Linked DNA regions of Homo sapiens: region 1 is linked to region 2. Evidence: fine-mapped expression QTL. Tissue or cell type: whole blood. Region 2 holds a variant in brackets; the other region holds the start of a gene. All regions are shown on one strand. Distances are from middle to middle.

Region 1 (8,178 bases), 25 kb after region 2:
GATTACAGGAGCCCGCCACCACACCTGACTAATTTTTGTATTTTTAGTACAGACAAGGTTTCACCATGTTTGTCAGGCTGGCCTCAAACTCCTGACCTCAAGTGATCCACCTGTCTTGGCCTCCCAAAGTGCTGGGATTACAGGCGTAAGCTACCACGCCCGGCCAAGAACCACTTTCAGGAAGGGCTCAGAACACTAATCAATGGCATTATCAATAGATGTAACTCTTCTCCACTTACCTCATTGGCTCTTTTGATGATTTTATCATCTACATCTGTAATACCCATCACCATGACTATGCTGCATCCAAAAACCTTGGTTAGGATCCTTCGAATGATATCAAATCTAACATATGAGCTGAAAGAAAAAAAGTGTCAGGATGTCTTTATTACACAAAGTCATCAGTTATCTTTGTAAAAAATCCATTACATTTTAACATGCTGCTCCATAACTTCTACTGTGTAGCACAATGGACAGGTCAGCGGAGCAGGTACAAGGAAACTCCCTCTCACTGATGGCACCAGGGCCTGCGCCACAAGGGTTCTCAGGAGAAACTGACAAAGGTATTGCATCAATTTCAGGACACAATATTAGCATTTTTAATTTTGGAGTTGTTGCTTAAGTGAGTTGAAGTCTATTTAATTGTATAAAAATTCACTCATAATACAATCTCTCAGTTAAGATCGTGTTTTCACCATTCTTGTTCATGTTCTAGAGTAATTCTAATTTTTCACTATGACAAAACAGAAGCAAATACCAAATCAAAACAAGTACGATCCCATTAAAGCCATATAAGATTACTCCTAAGAATGCACACACTAGTGTAGAATATTTAAAAATGCCAGCTTATTTATATACTACACTGGGGTAATTCAGACTTGTAAAACTAAAAGGGTTTAAAATCTACTTAGCATCTCAAGAATCTGTTTTCCCATAAAAGTTACCTTAAAACTCAAGGTTATCTAATGTCACACTCACCTCTGCTATCCATGTGGCCTAAATTTCAGTTCGTAAAATTGTTTTCTCTTAGGGTGGTGTGGGGGAATCCTAGCCATGTTATTGTATCACTTTAACCTCCCACACACCCCCTCCCTCTCCAAACACAGCTGAGACCAAATCTTGATTCCAGGGACAAAACTATCTCCAAAACTCAACAAGATAATTAACCTCTTACAGCTCAGTCGGCTTGCTTATAAATTTGGCAAAATCCCACCACCTAACAGGACTGCTGTCCAGCCTTACCGCCTGTGCAGCATGAATTCTAAAAACACAAGCTATTATTACCATTCTCATCACCATGCTCCTTCATTCACCTCAAGTTGGGAAAGAGTCTAAAAGATGTGAGATTTACAAGAAAAAAATTACAGGAACCTAAAGCAAATGAAAACAAGAGTCAAGTCCCTTGCTTGGCCCAGAGGAGCCCAGGCTGAGTCCCGGAACTGCCCTTGGAGACAGCAGAGGCTCCACAGCTTGGCAGAGCTGGCGGAATGCAGGGTCATGAGCAATTTGAGACCCTGAGACGCTGCAGGCAGGCTGTGACCACAGGGGCCACTCTATACACAAACACGCACACACACGCCTTGCAAGTGCCGGGCAGCCAAGTCTGAAGAACATGGCATCAGGAGACCTCAGCTTGCTTCTGTGACTCCACCATGAACCATGCTACCGTCAGCCCGGCTCTTTCTGCCCCATTTTCTCCATCCACTGGGTGAGTGTGCTCATCTGGGTGATCGCTGAAATGATTCATTTGCTAAGAGTCTTCCCTCAAAACGCTCCAGTGTGACTCCGTCTACCATGGCATGAAATCCAAACTCTCTGGGCCAGACCACGCAGCACCCTCCCCAGTCTGGCTGCAACTGACGCCCCATCCCTTCCCCTGCTCCTCCCCCCTAGCACCAAACTGATCTATTTGTTTTCCCCAAACAGGGTTTCCATCCCTCTGACCTCTTCTGGAAATGGTGGAGGCTATTTTTCAGGGTGTCTCTTTCCAGTGAACTGAGTGCTACCCATTGCTCAAATTCTACCTTTCTGCAGCAGGCACTGTGTGCATCCCTGTCCTGCTGGAGCTGAAATAATTACATCATGCTAACGACATCAGATGGTTGCATAAATAACCACTGAAGGAGTACAATGCTAGGAGAGCTGAGATGGGGAGAGGGAGGTGGGGCAGGCCAGCCCAGCAAAGGCCTGGAGGGGTTGGCCAGGCTGACAGGAAGGTGGTCAACAGGAGAGTCCCAAGCTCCCACCAGCCCCTGGGAAGGCCCTGTGTGGACACAGCTTATAACATGCATTCAGCTGCGCACTTAAGATGTGTATTCTTTTCTGTAGTCATAAAGGTAAATATTATACAAATTTAAACTGCAAGACTTGACTCTCCTAGTTGGAAATGAGAAGAGATTCTCTCCCCAACAACTTTTAGGATTTCTTCCTCAGTCCTCTTCAAATGCATGTCAATCTTTTAAATGGCTAAATAAACCTCTTGGCAGTTTTACAACTCAAGAAAATTTCAAAACCTGGGACCCACCTCTGAAATGTAATCAAGGAAAATAACGCCCCGTTTCCCAGTGTCCTGGGAGGAGATGGGCCTACCTTGTCATCTGACTCCACACTGTAACTCACCTGAAGCAATGGGTTATGCTATGGTCTGAATGTTTGTCTTCCCTCCAAATTCATGGTTGAAACCCTAACTCCCAAGGTGACGGTTTTAGGAGGTGGAGCCTCTGGGAGTGACAAAGTCATGGAGGCAGAGAGCTCATGACTGGGGTTAATGCCCTCATAGAAGAGACCTCAGAGAATTCCCTCTACCTTCTACCATGTGAGGACACAGCAGGCAGACCCTCAACAGACACCAAATTTGCTGGTGCCTTCATCTTGGACTTCCTAGCCCCAGAAAGAAAGAAATTTCTGTTGTTTATAAGTCATCCATTTTAGGATATTTTGTTACAGCAGACTCATAGACTGAGACAGGCTGTATCCCCAAAGCTCCATAGAAGGATGAGATTTCTTTCTGTCTTTGCAGTTATTTTAGCTCATCCCCTTCTGGTTTAAGGCTTATTCAGTAACAGAACTGTTTTCTTTCTCTTCTACCTTTGTGGAAAGGTTTTCCAGGGTGGGGGTTTTGTTTTTAATATTTCCCCAACATATTTTATAATTCAAGAAAGATGTCGAAATATGCTTTTGATAATTAAAAGTATGTTAGCCCAAAGTAAAGGGGAAAAATGTATATTTAAAGTATACAGAGTATGCCGGGCATGGTGGTTCATGCCTGTAATCCCAACACTTTGGGAGGCCAAGGCAGGTGGATCATTTGAGGTCAGGAGTTCGAGACCAGCCTGGCTGACATGGTGAAACTCCGTCTCTACTAAAAATACAAAAATTAGCCGGGCGTGGTGGTACATGCCTGTAATCCCAGCTACTCCGGAGGCTGAGGCAGGAGAATTGCTGCCAGGAGGCGGCAACTGGACCTGGGAGGCAGAGGTTGCAGTGAGCCGAGATTGCACCACTGCACTCCAGCCTGGGCGACAGAGCGACTCCGTCTCAAGAAAAAAAAAAAGTATACAGAGTAAATGTAACTTTTTACTTTTAGTCTAGGACTGAACAATACTAAGTTTTAAAAAATCTATAATATGTCATTTTTGTACATTATATTTTGGAAATGTACAAAATATTAGGAAAAGTGGTAATTTTGGCAAATGTAGGAGGCAGTACATCTTACAGTTAAAGAGGTCAAGAGAGCAACCACTTCGCAGTCAGAGAAACCAAGCCTCACCCCAGTTCCAATACCTCTTCAATGTGTCATCTTAGGAAAGTTACTCAATCACTATTGAGCCCCGTGACATCTCACATGTGAGGTACAGTGTTAAGCAGCATTTTATGGGCATTATTTACTAAAATTGTTATAAGATCCAAGTTATCATTCCCATCTCAAAGATGAAGAAACCAGGACTCAAAGCAATAAAGTGACCTGCTCAGTGCTGTGAAGCTAAGAAGTGGTGGGGCCCAGGAATGACTGATCAGCAGGACCCCGGGACCCCGCAAAGGCCTCTTGATGTCACTAAACCCAGCAAAAAACATCTAGTTCCAAAACGGGTCATTTTTCAGTGCTCCATTGTCTCCCTGAGTTTCCTCACCTGTAAAACGGGTGTAAGTGCTCAGAATCCCTATAAGAACCAAATGAGGTTGTAACATTTCCCACAATGCCTGGAATGTAGGAATTATTCTGCATCCCTAAGTTGCCACTTAAGAGATAAAAGAAATCAGCAAAAGGCTTTCAAAAATAAATGGTCCTTTGAAGTATGAAAATTCAAATCCAGGAAACTCACCAAGCATGGCCAAGGTGCGCATGATCATATACAGTTGGTCCACAGCTATACCTGGAAACAAAGTTAAAATCCATCGTGTGGAACATATTTGCAAGAAAGGACATTCGATTCTGAGTTATAATGATCATATAATTTTTAAAGTAATCACTTCTGGGGGATGAATAGCCGGGGTTTTCATACTTGCTCAATTCACACCCAAACCTGCAAAAGCACCGCGCACCCCCAGCTTCTAGAACGGCGCCCTCCATGCAGCTTCCTAAACGCCCTCCCCGAGCCCAGATCCCGTTCAGCCGTGGGAAGTCTCCGCCACGATCGGCCCCCGCCCGTGCCCCAGTCCCGCGCGGCCCACCAGGAGGCGGCTTCGGCGTGCGCCACGATTAGGGGTTCCTTCCTCCCGGTGAGGCTGTTGTACACCTGCACACCCGTCTCCCGGCCCGTGGGCTGCAGCCAGGCCCGCCCGCGCCCCCCGCTCGCCGCCCGGCCCGCAGGCCAGTGCCACCCAGCCCGCCCAAGGCCCAGCGCGGCCTGGAGCAGCGGGGGGCCCAGGCCTGGGCCGCGCGTAGTCCTCAACATGTCAGCGGCCAGCGCCTACGACTGGGCGGAGACGGGAGCCACGCCGGGTACGCTGCCGGTCGCTCAAGAGCAGCACGGCCCCGCCCCGCCCCGCCCACGCCCTTGGGGCCACGCCCACTCCCGGAAGCAGTCCTCAGGTAGCGCCTCCCTTTGGCCTGGCTCGAGTCGCCCGCGGCAAGGGTGGAGAACCAGGGCCCGAAGAGGTTGGGGCGGGGAAGGCCCGGGGTGGAGGGAGGAGGGCGGTGCCGCGCCGGGAGGCCGTGGGAAGAGGCGGTACCGTGCCGATCTCCTCTCCTTATTAGCCCAGGTCCTGCGAGGCGTCCGTGTGCGCGCGGTACCAGCCTGGAGCTGTGTCCGCCGCGCGGGAGGAGCGTTTACAGTGCAAGCTTCTGTTGCCGGGCCCTGGCCTGTTAGCGAAGCACGTGTGCATCCCAGCACAGCCCACGTCAGCACGCTAATACACAGTGTCCACCCCAGAACACACGTCAGCACCCCAATACAGTGTGCACCCCAATACAGTGTGCACCCCAAACACACATCTGCGCCCCAATACAGTGTGCACTGCAGCACACCGTTAGCATCCCAACACAGTGCACCCCGATACACAATGTGCAACCCAACACACAGTCTGCACCCCAAGAAGTGTGCACCCCAATACACAGTATGCACCCCAGCACACACATCAGCATCCCAATACAGTGTGCACCCCAATACAGTGTGCACCCCAGCACACACATCTGCACCCCAATAGTGTGCACTGCAGCACACCATCAGCATCCCAACACAGTGCACCCCGATACACAGTGTGCAACCCAGCATACAGTCTGCACCCCAATACACAGTATGCACCCTAGCACACACCACATCAGCATCCCAATACAGTGTGCACTCCAATACAGTGTGCACCCCAGCACACACCATGTCTGCACCCCAGTACAGTGTACACCCCAATACAGTGTGCACCCCTAATACACTGTGCACTCTAACACACACCATGTCTGCACCCCAGTACAGTGTGCACCCCAACACAGCACATGTGCATCCCAGCAAACACTGTCTGCATTCCAATGCAATGTGCACCTCAATAGAGTGTGCGCCCCCACACATCTACACCCCAATACAGTGTGCACCCCAATACACAGTGTGCAACCCAACACACACCATGTCTGCACTCCAATACACAGCATGCCTCCCCCACCATGATCCCGTATCTTGAGAACAAAAACATTCTGAAAGTTACTCACAATAGCTTGACAAACGTGCCTCTATTGGGCCAGGCGCAGTGGCTCACACCTGTAATCCCAGCACTTTGGGAGGCTGAGGCGGATGGATCACCTGAGGTCAGGAGTTCGAGACCAGCCTGACCAATATGGTGAAACCCCGTCTCTACTAAAAATACACAAATTAGCCGGGCGTGGTGGCGTGCATCTGTAGTCCCAGCTACTGGGGAGGCTGAGACAAGAGAATCGCTTGAACCCAGGAGGCAGAGCTCACAGTGAGCTGAGGTCACACCACTGCACTGCAGCCTGGGCAACAGAGGGAGACTCCGCCTGAAAAAAAAAAAAAGTGCCTCTATTGGTGTCTTGCAATACGATGTCTCAAAAAAAAGAAAAAGTCCCCTTTGCTTTTCCAGTTCTCAAAACAGGAGACGTTCCTCTGGTTTTTTGTTGTTGTTTTTAGTTTGCTTTGGTGTTTTATTAAAAAGCAAAGGTTTAAGTAGAGACAAACAAGTGTGTACCTAGAGTAGTTTCTCAATATCCTGGAGTCCAACTCTGCAATTCTGTTTCAAGCTAACTGTAGTCTAATGTAATCTATTGTCTAATTTAATAAGGTTAAAATGTTAGAATTAGGAGACCCTATAGCCTACATCAATGCTAACCACTCATGTTACCTAACTACTCTAAATTCTCCTGAATATTATCACTTCTTGCCTGCCTTATGTTATTTTGTAACTTTCCAGTGCTGTGTGTATATTTATCTCCCTGAGTATCTTAAATTGTACATTATTTTGAACTTCTCACTGTGCCCTGCACTAAATTCAGAAAAGGACTTGGGTTTTGTTTGTTTTGTTTTGCTGTGGCTGGAAAAAAAAAATTTAGAAGAAATAAAAGGGCTTGTTGAATGTTGATGAATTAATCCCTTACGAAAGGGATTAATTGTGCAGGTGGGAAGAAATCTGGGTAGTAAAATACCTGATAAAGCTGATTCAGATATTAGATGTGCCAGTAAATAAAGCAAATTAACAAAAAGCTCAGTTGCAATCTGTGAGAACACACGAATTCAAGGAAATAACTGGAGCAGAGATTCTGAAAGCAGCTTAGTAACACTGAAGATCAAATCTGCACATGAATCTGGACATGCGGTATATTTGAATTGTTCATAGAACATCACAACTTTTAAATTAACAATAGTATCTTCTGTCTTCAGAAAATTCATGTAATGTTTTTAGCCCCTCACTGGCAGTGATTCTATTATGTTTTCTTTTTTTTTTTTGAGGCAGTCTTGCTCTGTCACCCAGGCTGGAGTGCAGTGGCCTGATCTGGGTTCACTGCAGCCTCTGCCTCCTGGTTCAAGCAATCCTCCTGCTTCAGCCTCCACAGTAGCTGAGATTACAAGTGCACACCACCGTGCCCAGCTAATTTTTGCATTTTTATTTTTATTTTTATGTATTTATTTTTGAGACAGAGTCTCACTCTATCACCCAGGCTGGAGTGCAGTGGCACGATCTCGGCTCACTGCAACCTCCACCTCCCAGATTCAAGTGATTCTTCTGCCTCAGCCTCCCGAGTAGCTGGGATTACAGGTGCGTGCCACCACGCTCAGCTAATTTTTGTATTTTTAGTAGAGATGGGGTTTCATCATGTTGGCCAGGCTGGTCTGGGACTCTGGAACTCCTGACCTCAAGTGATCCAGCCACCTCAGCCTCCCAAAGCGGTGGGAATACCGGCCTAAGCCACCACACCTGGCCAATTCTCTTTTCTCTTTTTTCTTTTTTTTTTTTTTGAGATGGAGTTTCACTCTTGTTGCCCAGGCTGGAGTGCAATGGCGTGATCTCCTGGGTTCAAGCGATTCTCCTGCCTCTTTCTCACGTCTCCCGGGTTCAAGCAATTCTCCTGCTTGTCTCCTGAGTAGCTGGGATTACAGGCATGTGCCACCATGCCCAGCTAATTTTGTATTTTTAGTACAGATGGGGTTTCTCCATGTTAGTCAGGCTGGTCTTGAACTCCCGACCCCAGGTGATCCGCCCACCTCGGTCTCTGAAAGTGCTGGGATTACAGGCATG
Region 2 (8,178 bases):
GCACTCCAACCTGGGCAAGAAGAGTGAACCTCCGTCTCAAAACAAAAAAACAGGAACATGAAACTAACTGTGGCGAGCCCCATGGGCAGCTGTGCAGCACGGGGCACGGGCGGTATGCTGTCTTTCACACACCCCACCCAAGGTGCCCCTGGCTGTGGGCAGAGCCACAGGGTGTGGACACCTCAGGTGCGTCCAAGGGGACCAGGGAGAAGGCGGAGAAAGCTCTACTGAGAGGCAGAAACCAGGACAGAGAGGGTGTTTCCAGAGTAGGGGATGCCGCAGTGGGCCAGGAGAGCAGTGTCGTGTGACTGAGTGGGGGCGGCAGGCAGCTGCGGTCCCAGGCAGACAGTGGGAAGAGGAGCTTTGGTGACAGAGGACCCACATGAGGGTGGCTGGGGGACTCCAGGAAGATCTGGGAGGAGCTGGAGATTTCCGCCACAGAGCACCCTGGCATGCGAGTTGCCTGAGCTAGAAGAGCTGGCGGGAAGGCGGAGAGGGATTTGGGGGCTAGAGAAGTGCGAAGCGAGGAGGGATGTAGGTGCAAGCACTCTCCTCCAGGGCCCCAAGCACCAGCCACTACAGAGAAGGGTGAGGGAACAGGGCAGCTGCAAGTGTGAACCAAAAAGCAGCCTCTCCACTAAACAGAGGAAGTGCTGAGGTCAGGAAAGCTTGATGTGTCATGGGTTTCGTTCACCCCGTTCCATGGCCCGTCACACTCCGGCAAAAATCTCTTCCCAAAAAATCACCCATGGGCACACGTGCCAGGCTGCACCTGCTCCCATGCACATCCTCTGCTGCCCTGAGCAGGCACCAGGGGAACTTGAGCCCCAACCCCCAGGAAGCGGCAGGCACCTTACCTAGCGATGGCAGAGCACTCGATGTGCCAGCCCGGCCTCCCGGGTCCCCAGGGAGAGGCCCAGAACACCTCCTGGGGTTTGGCCGCCTTCCACAGGGCGAAGTCACTGGCATGACGCTTGTCAGAGTCCGCTGCAGATGACAAACGGTACATCAGTGGGAAGAAGCTCAGTCACCCCACCACGGATGCTCAGACATTCACCCCCACCACAGAAACCCAGACAGTCACCCCCACCATGGAAACACAGAAAATCACCCCAACATGGAAACCCAGACAGTCACCCCCACCACAGAGACCCAGTCACCCCCACCACGGAAACACAGAAAATCACCCCAACATGGAAACTCAGACAGTCACCCCCACCACGGGGACCCAGTCACCCCCACCACGGAAACACAGAAAATCACCCCACCATGGAAACCCAGACAGTCACCCTTACCACGGAAACCCAATCACCCCCACCATGGAAACACAATCACCCCACCACGGACACGCAGACAGTCACCCCACCACAGAAACTCAGTCACCCCCACCAGGGAGACCCAGACAATCACACCACAGAAACTCAGACAGCCACCCCGCCACGGAAACCCAGACAGTCACCCCCACCATGGAAACACAATCACCCCACCACGGACACGCAGACAGTCACCCCACCACAGAAACTCAGTCACCCCCACCAGGGAGACCCAGACAATCACACCACAGAAACTCAGACAGCCACCCCGCCACGGAAACCCAGACAGCCACCCCGCCACGGAAACCCAGACAGTCACCCCCACCATGGAAACACAATCACCCCACCACGGACACGCAGACAGTCACCCCTACCATGAAAGCCCAGACTGTCACCCCACCAGGGAAGCCCAGGCTGTCACCACCACCTCACCCCCACCACAGAAGCCCAGATAGTCACCCCCCACCACAGAAACTCAGCTGGTCACCCCCACCAGGGAAATCCAGCCGGCCACCCCGGTGGAAGCCCCTCCAGCCGCCAGTGGGCAGCACGCCCCAGGCTGTGTCTCTTCGAAGGAGCCTTGGCTTCTCGTTCACTCCTGTTTCACCCACGTGAGGGACAGGAGCACCGGCAACGCTTTCACCTCAGATGCACCAGCGCACAGGGAGAGCTGGGCGGCCGGGAACCCACAGAGGCTCATTTCTCAGGAATGTACTGTGGACCAGGTGGGGTTTTCCCATTTTTCCTTATTCTGTCTTACGAGAAATACTCTGCTTATCAGTAACTGAGTTTCAGGGTTGTTTTTTCCAAAAAGATACTAATCACACAGAGTGAAAGGCGCGTGATCGTGTCAGGTAACGCGGCTTATGGACCCGAGACTCTGAGCAAGGTGCCCATCACCGTGCGGTGAGGCTGCCAGTGGCGCATGCTCACCAAAACCTGCTGTCCCATCTGCCCAGGACAGGCACACCCCATGTGCACAACGTCCCAATATCACCCTTTCCACCCGGGAGCACTGACACAGGCGTCCATCACCTTTGATGAATTTAAAGAGTGCAGACACAGATACTTTTTCTGGGTCAGACTGGACAGGCTACGTTTTCATTACTAGTCACTTTACTAAGAATAACATCCTCTGGGCACCCAAGCAAACAGAACAATTCCTACATAGTGCATGGCAAACGAGAGCATCAATAACACCTTATGCCGAAGGAAAATACTTAAGGACAGAAAATGCGGCCAAGGACTGTATTTCCAGCCAAACTGACTTTGAAGTAGAAGGCAGCACACTGTCATCCACAGGCACAAATGCAGAGAATACTGTTCCCGAGAAAGGGCTCTTCCTTCAGAAACTGCTGGGGAATGAGCTTCAAAAACAACAGGGAAAAAGCGGACCTGGAGACGGTGGGAGGGGGGAAGAGTGGACGGGGCTACAGAAGGCAGCGCAGGCGGAGGCTGGGCACTCCAACATATGGACACGCGGGGCGGGGAGGAGGCACGTGCATGGGAACCTTCTAACCGTGGTCAAGCCTCGGGCAGGGCTGGTCCGTGATGGACTAAAGCAGGTGGATGCCCACTGGTCATCCGGTCACGCCCGTTGTCCTTACCACACATGTGAACAGACAGAGGGGTTAATGAAACCCCGTGGCCCTGAATTTGAGTATCAGTGTGACCTACGGAGCAGATGCGTTCATTACCTCAGTCTATGGGAGAGGCCAGGAAACAATGACAGACGGCAATGACAGATGGCAACAATGAGTATCCATGGTGCCCATGCTGTGTTCTCAAAACACCATTTCCCATTAAAAGTAAAATGGGAGCTGGGCGCGGTGGCTCACACCTAGAATCCCAGCACTTTGGGAGGCCGAGGCGGGCGGATCACCTGAGGTCAGGAGTTCGAGACCAGCCTGACCAATATGACGAAACCTCGTCTCTACTAAAAATACAAAAATCAGCCGGGTGTGGTGGCAGGTGCCTGTAATCCCAGCTACTGTGGAGGCTGAGGCAGGAGAATCGCTTGAGCTCGGGAGGCGGAGGTTACAGTGAGCCGAGATCGCGCCATTGCACTCCAGCCTGAACAACAAGAGTGACATTCTATCTCAAAAAAACAAAAGAAAAGAAAAGAAAGAAAGAAAGAAAGAGAGAGAAAGAAAGAAAGAAAGAAAGAAAGAGAGAGAGAGAGAGAGAGAGAGAGAGGGAGGGAGGGACACCGGGCGTGACCGGAGGGAGGGAGGGAGGGAGGGAGGGAGGGAGGGAAAGGGAAGAAAAGGGAAGAAAGAAAAGAGAAAAATGGGACTTCCAGGAGAAACAGCTTATTTTAAGATGAGCCAGGAATATCTTACCATATCAGATAGAC[A/G]GCCACAAAACTATTAACTACAACAGGGCTGAGTGTAAGGGACTCGGGAGTAGCTGCTACCAGCAAAAGAGGGGGCACGCCGAGGCTCAATAAGGTGATGGCAGCAATGGGTTAAAACGGCATGTGCACTGAAGCCCACGAGCTCTCAGCAACGGAAGAACATGAACTGGTCACTGCCAGAGGAAAATATGGAAGCCAACTCCTTGTTCTGAAAACTGGTAAGTTAAGGAAAAGGTCCTGCCTTTCTTATACAAACTGTACCACTGAGTAACCAGATGACAGTCTGCCTGTATAAAAGTATTCCAGCAAATGGGCCAGGCACGGTGGCTCACACCGATAACCCCAGTACTTTGGGAGGCCGAGGGGGGGGGGGGGGGGGGTGGATCACCTGAGGTCAGGAGTTCAAGACCAGCCTGGCCAACACGGCAAAACCCCATCTCTACTAAAACTACAAAAATTAGCTGGGTGTGGTGGCATGCCCCTGTAATCCCAGCTACTCTGGAGGCTGAGGCAGGGAGAACTGCTTGAACCTGGGAGGTGGAGGTTGCAGTGAACCGAGATCATGCCACTGCACTCCAGCCTGGGCAAAAGAGTGAGATTCCGTCTCAAAAAACAAACAAACAAACAAACAAAAAAGGTATTCCAGCAAATAAAGCAGAATGGGAGTTGCACCACCATGCCACCTCTTTTTGCAGTGAAGGATCTAAGCCTAGAGCGGCCAGGGCTGCTGACACACAGAGGCAGAGCCCTTACGTGTCTCCTGGTGAGGAATACACCATCTACAAAGTAGCCTTCTCCAGAAATTTAGAACTGGATTAAGCCTCTACATTCAACTACCAGTTTGCAAAAAAACACACAGGACAGAGGGAAATGTTACAGACACTCCAAAACTCAGAGCAAGCGAAATCCCACTGGGGGAACCGTGAGACACATGACGTTTCTCCCTCAAATGAGCAGCAAGGGGAAGAAGCCAGGGGAGGAACATGTGGACTAAAAACAAGACACAAATATAGAACAGCTAAGGCTAAGTGTCGTGTTAAGGGACACGTGTTTGGGCAATAAACCCATTCAGAAAAATGAGGAGGTGGCCGCTGTCAGAGTTAGGGCAGTAGTTGCCCCCAGGGCAGGGCAGAGAGGCTGGCAGGCAGGGCCCGGGAGGTTATCGGCCAGGGCGTGGGACCCGGAGGACTCAGGTGCCTTCGCTCCCTTGCCATTGTTGTCTCCTTCCACTAGGGGGTGACCGCAGGGTCTCCACTGAACACAAATTCACTGAGCTGGGCATTTTTGTTTGTTTGGTAGAGACAGCAAGGGGTCTCACTACATTGCCCAGGCTGGTCTTGAACTCCTGGCCTCAAGTGATCCTCCAACCTTGGCCTCCTAAAGTGCTGGAATTACAGGTGTGAGCCACCATGCTCAACCAAGTTGGACATTTTTTAATGGTGTTTTCTATTGTTGTGTTATTACAACAATTTAAATTGAAAATTAAAAAGACAACACCATTGCTTTGGAAATAACATACACTAAGGCATTAAAATTTTTTTTCACCATATGTAAAAATGGTGGTTTTATTATCTTTGTTTTGTGTAATTCTATTTCCTAATTTTGTACCATTATAAATTATATAAATATGTTGCTTTTGTATAAGAAAATATTTTTTATTTTAAAAAGCACTGCTGTGAAGATGTGGAACGACAGGGACTTATTCCTCACTGGTGGGGATGCAAAATGGTGCAGCCACTCTGGCAGAAGCTGGGCAGTTTCTGACACAAATAAGCCTCTTCCCAGAGGACCCAGCATTGTGCTCCTTGGTATCTGCCCAAATGAGCTGAAAACCTGCACGTGGATGTTTACAGCAGCTTTATTCATAATTGCCAAAACTCAGAAGCAGCGAAGATGCCCTTCAGTAGGTGAGTGCTTAAGCTGCTGTAAATTCAGACACTGGGACGTGACTCAGTGTTAAAGAGAAACGAGCTCTCAGCCATGAAAAGACACGGAGGAAAATTACTGTGTATTCCTAAGTGAGAGAAGCCATTCTGAGAAGGGTGCACAGTGTATGACTCCAACTATATGACATTCTAGAAAAGGCAAAACTAGAGACTGTAGAAAGACCAGTGATTTCCAGGGATGGGAAAGAGGGAAGGATGAGCAGACAGACCACACAGGATTTTTCAGGGCAGTGCAAGTATCCTGCGTGATGCTGGAATGGTGGAAACATGTCGCTATACATTCACCCAAACCCAGAGCACACAGTGCCGAGAGTGAACCCTGATGCCAACTCTGGTCTCTGGGCAAAGCTGATGCGTCAATGGTGGGGGATGCTGACAGTGTGGGGGGCGGTGTGGAGGGTAGCAGGTAGACAGGAATTCTCTGTACCTTACTCTCAAATTTGCTATGAAGCTAAAATGGCTCTAAAAAGCAAATCTATTAAATAAATAATTTTAAAAAACCTTCCTGATGCCAGAATGTACAACTCTCAGAAACTTCTCCTCCACATGTGTAAGCAAAGCCCACACGGCCTGCTGGTAGCCACGCCTCACACGTGGCTGATGTGGGCGTCTGTGTTCCGGCCTGTGCGGGGAGCGGGACAGGGCACCACGGCGGGGGAAGGAAAGAACCTGAGGGGTCAGTGCTATGGATGGTTAGGATTCATTGGCACAGTTTATGGCGCAGAAAGACAGTGCCTAAAACCAGAAATACCTTGAACAGTCTTTGGGGTCTGTCCCTGTTATTCTTGTTTGATTCCCTTAGACAGTATCCTTTTCAAATTATTTTAAATTTAGTTCCATATACTGCGCTTACTATTTCTTCTCCATAAAAATGTTTTGACCTAATAACTCCCTGGAACAGAATAGAGCAAGGAAGAGATTCAAACAGATTGGAAGTTTAACACATAGTAAGACACGTATGGGAATTAAATGTACGGTAACACAGAAGAACGCGAAAATATGATGTACGTGTATGAGGTTTTCATGTGCGCTGAAAACCCTGGGGAGGAAAAAGGAGACAGTGACCAGCACTGTCTCCAGGGAATGGAGCCAGGCACGCTGGGGGCGGGGGTGGACGATGCCCCACTTGCCGTTTGAACTATATGCCTCACAAGCTGGAGCCATCCACAGAAACCACACTAAATTTAAAACACAGCTGTGACCTGGGTAAGGCCAGTGTCTGAGCAAGTGGAGGGGTCTGCGCTCCAGATCTCATCTCCCCAGAGCTGAGACCCGAGGCAGAGGTCAGGGACCCACAGGGCTGAGCCCGGCCAACCCACCTGGCTCTCCGACTGGACCAGGGACCACGCCGACCAATTTGCCATACTTGTCTCCTCTAGACTTCAGATCGAAGTAGACATTGCCTGTTTATAAAGACAATTATGAATTCATCACTTCTCAGTCTGAATATCAGCATATTGACAACCTTAACATCTAACAAGTAATTAGAATTTAAATACAGAACATAGCATTTGGCCCCATATACATATATAGTATTTATATTTTTATAGACAGGGTCTTGCTGTTGCTCAGGCTGGAGTGCAGTGGTACAATCACAGCTCACGATAGCCTTGAACTCCTTGGCTCAGGCAGTCTTCCCACCTCAACCTTCCCAGTAGGTGGGGCTATAGGAGTGACACCATGCCTGGCTTAATATATTTGTTAACCAGAATTAAAAACAATACTATAAGATAAATGCATGATTTGGACATATCATGAGTACACAGACGTGAAAGTGAAAACACAAATGTAAGTTCTCTGTAAACTACTGAGACAATTATTTAATCAGAAAAAAGAAAAGTGTTATCACTGACCTTCATTTAGATCTTGTGCCTTGTGTTACACAACAGCTAACAAAGACACTCTTTCTTTACTTTATGTTACACACCAGCTAGCAAAGACACTCTTTCTTTGCCCAGTCATCTTCTAAAACTACCTTTTTACTCAGATTGAAAACATCATCTGGCTGGGTGCAGTGGCTCACGCCTCCAATCCCAGCACTTTGGGAGTCCGAGGCAGGAGGATTGTTTGAGCTGAAGAGTTCGAGACCAGCCTGGGCAACATAGTGAGACCCCATCTCTACCAAAAAAAACACACAAAAAAATCATCTGCATATTGAAGTGTCTGTGAGGCTGAGTGCCAAGGTCCGCTTTGCAGTCTGAGGTCAGAACCTTCTCCAGAGCCTCCTGCAAGCCTGGGCTGCCCTTGCCCCTTCCACCACAAAGCCTAAGAAAGCAGAGCTGGGGAGGAGGCACTCAGAGTGGGAGCTTTGTCAAGAAGAAAGCACTACCAACCTATGCTCCAAGGCTGCCCGGCTGCAGCCGCTGTGTGTTCCAGGCCATGTGTCTCCCTAGGAAGGAGGCAATGCTCATCCGGGCTGTGACCATGGCCATTCTCAGTACCACAGATCCGCAGCCACCATCCAGCACCCTCCAACCACACAGCAGCATGTAGCTGTCCTCAGGCCCCAGGCGTGGGTGCAACTTTTAGCCTTTACAAAGTTTGAGTCTTCACATTCTTTTTT

What was found. PIP is the estimated chance that this variant, and not a neighbour inherited with it, causes the effect.
Region 1: it holds the start of CARS2, and the variant in region 2 is fine-mapped to the expression of CARS2 in whole blood (TOPMed, PIP above 0.99).

The regions. Positions count from the first base shown.
Region 1 is chr13:110,701,199-110,709,376 of GRCh38, forward strand. CARS2 (cysteinyl-tRNA synthetase 2, mitochondrial) reads right to left here and starts at 4,918. Exons shown (of 15, transcript NM_024537.4): 1 at 4,672-4,918; 2 at 4,323-4,373; 3 at 240-357. The coding sequence starts at 4,895. RefSeq lists a silencer at 4,726-5,285 and enhancers at 5,336-5,715, 5,726-5,845.
Region 2 is chr13:110,676,117-110,684,294 of GRCh38, forward strand. It overlaps CARS2 (cysteinyl-tRNA synthetase 2, mitochondrial), which reads right to left. Exons shown (of 15, transcript NM_024537.4): 6 at 6,935-7,018; 7 at 858-987. Among named protein-coding and RNA genes, the nearest start is that of CARS2, 26 kb to the right of the region's middle. RefSeq lists an enhancer at 1-555. The variant A/G (reference allele first, on the strand shown) is at 3,670.